Regions from separate parts of the Homo sapiens genome. Here region 1 is linked to region 2. A link means that fine-mapping ties the variant in region 2 to the plasma level of a protein whose gene starts in the linked region. Region 2 holds a variant in brackets. A gene starts in the other region. All regions are shown on their reverse strands.

Region 1 (2,908 bases), not on the chromosome of region 2:
GACGCCTGTATGGGCACGAGGAGGTGAAGGTGACAGGAAGTGTGATGGGGGAAGAGGCTGTGGTGGTGGGGTTACTCTGAAGTGTCTCTAAGCCTTGACTTTGAGATCCATTTCTGTGGAGCCCCCTGTCCCCACCCCATCCCAGGTCTGTAGACTCCCCTCCCCTCCCCTCCCTTCCTCCACAGGGTGTGTGAACCAGCACCAAGCGGCACCCCACAATTTCCACACACATCCCTATAGGTAGGGACTAGCACCATCCCTGTTTTGTGACAGGAACACTGAGGCTCAGAGAGGTGCATTCCTTTGTCCGAGATCACTCCCAGAGCCCCAGTGTACCCGACTCCAGATGCATAGTACTGAACCGGTTCCAGACACCAGTGTGTCACTGGGCTGGGAGGTGGGCAGCGTGGAGGGAGCATATAGGGCAGGGGAGACCACCGGGCGGAGAGGATGGCCCAGGGAGCACCCAGCTGAGGAAAGCAAGAAAGACTTGGCGGGAAACCCCAGCCCTCTCTCATCTCATACCCCGGCCCCGAAGGCGGCTGAGACCCTTGACGAGCGGACGGAGAAAAGCCAAAAGCCGGCGGTGGGGAGCAGGAGGGACAGAGCGGGAGACCACAGGCGAAAGACCAGCGCCGTCGGGGGAGCCAGGCTGAGTACCTTCCTGGGCACAGATGGGACGGCGCGGGGCCACCGGCGGTGCTGGTTCCGGGCGCACTCAGCGACCCCGGCCACACACCCCAGCCTCCTGGGCGGCCTCGAAAGGGGCTGGAGGGCACGCCCGCCAGCTCTGCCCGGGGCTCAGGGAGTCTTCGAAGACTTCTTCCAACGGTGGCGGACTGGGGCCCCCTGCCTGAGAGACCACCCGGAGACTCAGAGACAGAGAGACAAAGGGAGACTGGGTCAGGGAGAGAGAAGGCTAGTGCCGAGGAGAGTAGGTGCGAGCCGGGACCCCAGAGGGCGGCGAGGGCGCGCGCGAGGCCGAGTGTCAGAGCGTGGAAAAGTGGGCGTCCAGCGGTAGGTGGACGGATGGGGAGCCCGGGAGCAGAGCCAGGGTCCGTGGGCAGACGCGGCGAGGAGAGGAGGCGGCGGAAGGACTGGCGGATAGACGGGTCCGAGGGCTGGGAAGGAGGCAGCATCCTCACTTCCAGCCTCGGGACCCCGCGCACCCCGCCCCTGGGCGCGCCAGGTAGCCCACCTTTGTCCGGGCTCGCAGCCAGGTGGGGCGGGAGGGGCGGAGCCAGGGGCGGGCCGAGGCCGTGCCTTACCTGTCCGGCCGGCGGGTAGGGGGAGGAGGGGCTCGGGGCCGAGCGCCCGCGGGAGCCGAGCGCAGCCGAGGGCGAGCCGCGGAACGGGGCCGGCGTGGAGAGGTGCGCGGGCAGCCGGAGGATGTGCCCGGGCTGAGCGGGACTGGAAGGAAGGGGGAGTGGGCGGGCAGGAGGGAAGGGGGCGGGAGCGCGGGGAGGGGACAGAGGAGGGGCGGCGGGTGGCGGGCTCGACTGCCCCCAGCCGAGGGGCAGCCCCGGGGCCGGGCCCGGCGCGCACCCGGCCAGCGCGCCCTCGCCAGCTGCGCTCTGAGTTCTGGGCCAGCTCCCCAGAGGCCTAGGCGCCGCCGCCGCGAGGGCGCGGGGCAGACAAAGGAGGCAGACAAAGGCGGGCGCAGCCCAGCAGCCGTGCGGGCACCGGGCGAGGCAGGCCCACTCCTCCCGGTGCGTAAGAGCCGCCTCGGCGCGGCCCAGGGCGCGTGGGACGGGAGGGGCTCCGGCAGTTGTGGCGCCTCTGGAGCGGCCCCGCGCAGGGCGGGCGACAAAGGGCCGCGGCGGGCGGTCCTCGGTGGACCCCAACAATGGAGCGAGGCTGCGCGCTCAGCTGCGGCCGCGTCTGTCAGGGCAGGGGCCCGGGGCCACAAAAGGATTATTCCGCCTAGACTGTCAAAAGGGACGGAAGAAATGCCCAGGGCGGGGGAGGCGGGACGGGGAACGGCGGGGCCTTTGTAGCCGCAGAAAGTGCGCAGAGTGGGCAGGCGGGGTTCTCCGAGAGGTCGCTCCTGGATGTAGGGGTACAAAGGGTCTTCAAAGTGCTACCAGCTCACCTGGGGCGCTGACGGCGCACCTGTGCCCTCTTTCCCGGTAGGGAAGGGAGAAAGACAACCGCCCCAATACACACACACACAAACACACACACACACACACTCACACGCGGCGCGGCTCTCGCCACGCCCCGTCCAAAGCCGGCCTGAAGCTTCTCAGACCGGCCCAACCCGGACAAAGCCAGCGCTGGGGCCGGCTCATCCATCACCGCGCGGGGCGCCGTGTCCTGACGACCCTGGGAGTCTGAGAATGCTGGGTTATGGGTCCCGTGCCTCCCATAACTCACGACGGGGTCGGTGGGGCCACGGACGCTGCAAAGATCAAAGAGCGATGGGGCCGGACTCCCATATGTGGGAAGCAGCGCTCCCACCTGGCGCCCTGAGCTCGCCAGGTGGCTTCCATTTCGACTGTTTTCTTTCTCCAGCGTGTGGCAAATTATGACTTTGAGGTTTTAGAACACAGTTCTGCCGTCAGGCTAAATGTCTGTGTTCCTCTTCTGATGCCGTCCCCTATGACCTCGAGCAAGTCGCCTGACCTCTGAGCTCATGATTATACCTAAATTTCAGTGTTCTAGGCGTGAATGCAGTGCCCTGTGTAAGGAGATAACGTTTCTAAGGTCTGGCCCATAGGAAATGCTCCTGTAAAATTAGCTGCCATTGTTACCGTGATATTATTAGCTTGGTGGGCACCAGGATGGATTGATGAGAACACTGAACTGTTTATTCACTGAAAGGTTTGAGTCATCCATCCCATAAATACCTATTGAACACCTACTATGTGCCGGCACCGGAGGTACAGTAGTAAACAACATGGACAAG
Region 2 (2,908 bases):
AAGAAAAAAATTAATGTTTAGTTGCATTTCTAATATGTAAATACCTTCTTATAAGGTGATATCGTAAAATATCACAGGTAAGGCCAAAGTCTCCTTTAGGAGGTTTTCTCCAAACCCCTGAAGTTTTCTCAGAGGAAACCCATGTTAACATTTTGGTGCACAGCTTTCTAAAGCTTTATCTACATCTTTATATACATGTTTGGGTACCTTGGTATGTATATGTTTTAACATAAATCAAATAATTTCATCTCTCATTATTATATCACTTGGACTTTTTCTTGAAATTATGTACAAATATACCTCTTTCTTTTAACTGATTATTAGTATTGATTAATGGAGATATATCATGGTTTATTTCACCATTCCTCTACTGATAAATTGTTGTCATCTCTTTTTTTCTCCTACTGTAAAAAGAATCTTGTATGTGGCTCCTTGTGCAAACAAATGTGTGTGTTTCTCAGGTGTGCAGACTGAGAGGTGGGATTACTATGCTTGCTTCTGCTTGTAAACTCCAGGGATAGGAAATTCACTTGTACCTGAAGAAGCACCTGTCCTCCCCTCCTCTTCCCTACCCCCATGGTCTGAGTGAGCTGAGAGCCTTGAACCCCGTAGTCCTGGATCGATGCTCTCTGTGGCACAAGTCTCGTCTGTTTTCTCTTCAGATTTGATAGTCATTTCCATTCTGGCAGCTCCTACTGAGGGCAGGTAGTGAAGAACAGTAGATTCATGAGAAACCAAGAAGATAGCGCTAGGTAGGTCAGATCTCAACAGGAAAGCTAATAAAGCCTGTATTGACTTATAATGACTGTAGATAGTCCCTCTGCCAGTTTTCCATTCCTCCCCAGCCCCTTCATCACTGAGGATGACCCAGAATTGCAGAATCTTGCCTATACTTTTCGGGGTGCAGGAGAATTTAAAGCCATTCTTTGCAGCCACTGAATTTTAAATACGGAGATGAGGCTTTCTGTGGGGAGTCTTCCTGACGTTGGGTAAGTAATTTACTATTGAGGCACCTGTTTCAAATCACCTGTTAGAGGGTGTGATGATATCTGCTCTACTTAGCTATTGAGGTTGTTGAAGAGATGAAATGAGATCATAAAGGTGAAATCTTAAGTGCAGGCTTAAGGGGCGACTATGGGATAGCATTTAAGATGTGTGCTCCAGAAGCAGAAGGGTTCATCTCAAACTCTCTTGAGGTGAAACTGTGTGAAGTTAGGGCAATTTGAGCTCTGGGCAGAAGGGAGCACTCTTGCACTGTCTCTAGATTGTCTTCACCAGTTGGGAGGAGGGGATGCATTTTTGTCTCTATTGTCCAGTATAGTCCTTGGGTCACTGTGGGGATGGTGAGTTACCTTTTATCCATTAGCTGGGACTGGCCATTTCATGATTCCTCAAAATGCAAAGCATCCTGGCCCAGCTGACTTTGCCAGTGTTTTTTTCCAGGGCGGATAGGAGCTGAACACC[G/A]TGGCTCAAGTGGCAAATGAAGAGTCCAGCACAACAAACAGCCATCATATGGTGCAAATAGCAGGAGAGACCCCATTGCCACCTGATTTCTGCATGATCTATTTGTGGTGGCATGAGGCACTACAGGAGAGGTACCCTGCTGCCTTCCAGCAGTAATGGAAGAGATTATGTGGACTATGTGTTCTAGGAAATAAACTTTTAAGACTCCAGCTGGCTCGGCAATAATATAGGTGGTTCTAACGACACTGCTTAGTTATGGGAAACCATCACTGAAGAAATGGGCCCATTTAGTATCATCTCCCATCTTGTCATGAATATCAGAAGCCTGGAAGACAGGGATAAAAAAATGGGTGAAACATGTTTGGCATCTGGAGTTTCTGGAAAGTGCAGCCAAACCTCTTCGCTATGCTTTGTGTTGGTTCTGGGCTGATTAAAGTTATCCACATTGTACCTCTTTCTTGCTACTGCTTTTAACTTTTTATTTTGACAAAATTTCAGACTTTTTAAAACATTGGCAGAATAGTACAAGGAGTTTCCCTCGTGTTAATAATTTACCAACTTTACTTAATTTAATATATATGTACCATCTATTATATATGCCATATATTTTTATATGATACCATATATTTTCATATAATGCCATATTTTTTCCTGAATTATTTGAAATGTATAGACATAATGTTCTTTATCCCTAAAGACTTCGATGTGTACTTTCTGAAAATGCATTTTGTTACATAAGCACTATTGTTAATCATCAAAACTGGGAAATTAACATTAATACAAAACTATTACCTAATCTACAGACCTCAGTTGAATTTCACCAATTGTTCCAGTTTTATGCTATATGGTAAAAGAAAACACTGGATCACACATTGACTTTATTAGTGTCTCATCTTTTTAAATCTGGAACAGTTTTCTGTCTTTTATGACAATGACATTTTAGAAAAGTACTGGTGAGATTTTTGCAGAATGTTTCTTAATCTGAGATTCTCCAGTATCTCCTCATGGTTAGATTCAGGTCATACATTTTCAGCTGGAATATCATAGAAGTGATGTTATGTCCTTTTTCATTCATTATTATCAGGCTGCACATGATGTCAATTTCCCTCATTATTAGTGATGTTGACTTTATTTGGTGAAGATGGTGTCTGCCAGTTACAGTAAATGCTGCCGTAAAGGCGTTTTCCAACCTTTCCCTTTGTAATTAATAAGTATCTTAAGAGGTACTTTATTATGTGAAATTTCTGTTACTCCTCATACTTTAAGCTACTAGTTTTATCATCATTGATGATTCTTATCCTGAATTGATTACTATTTTGAAGTTTGCCAAATTGTTGTTTTCTATTTCCATCATCCTTTCCACGTTCGTTTGTTAGCTTTTTGCTGTAAGGAGATTTCCCTACTTCCACATTTATTTACTTAAAGGACCTCTCCACAATGGTTC

Alleles and levels. Alleles are on the strand shown, and positions count from the first base shown. The strength of an association depends on the size of the effect and on how common the allele is.
For the plasma level of the protein whose gene starts at base 1,412 in region 1, allele A in region 2 goes with a lower level than allele G (weak association).

Evidence for each region. A credible set is the group of variants that fine-mapping cannot tell apart. PIP is the posterior inclusion probability: the model's chance that the variant is causal. The UK Biobank Pharma Proteomics Project read protein levels with antibody pairs (Olink). The fine-mapping took linkage between variants from a reference panel, not from the people measured, so its PIPs are less certain.
Region 1: DRAXIN starts here. The variant in region 2 is the best candidate, but not a certain one, in a credible set for the plasma level of the DRAXIN protein (UK Biobank, PIP 0.61).

What each region holds. Positions count from the first base shown.
Region 1 is chr1:11,690,214-11,693,121 of GRCh38, reverse strand. DRAXIN (dorsal inhibitory axon guidance protein) reads right to left here and starts at 1,412. Exons shown (of 7, transcript NM_198545.4): 1 at 1,269-1,412. It also overlaps a transcript of MAD2L2 not described here. RefSeq lists enhancers at 2,097-2,604, 2,605-2,908.
Region 2 is chr8:129,585,558-129,588,465 of GRCh38, reverse strand. All of the region lies in intron 1 of CCDC26 (CCDC26 long non-coding RNA), which reads left to right. Among named protein-coding and RNA genes, the nearest start is that of CCDC26, 93 kb to the left of the region's middle. RefSeq lists an enhancer at 543-1,742. The variant G/A (reference allele first, on the strand shown) is at 1,465.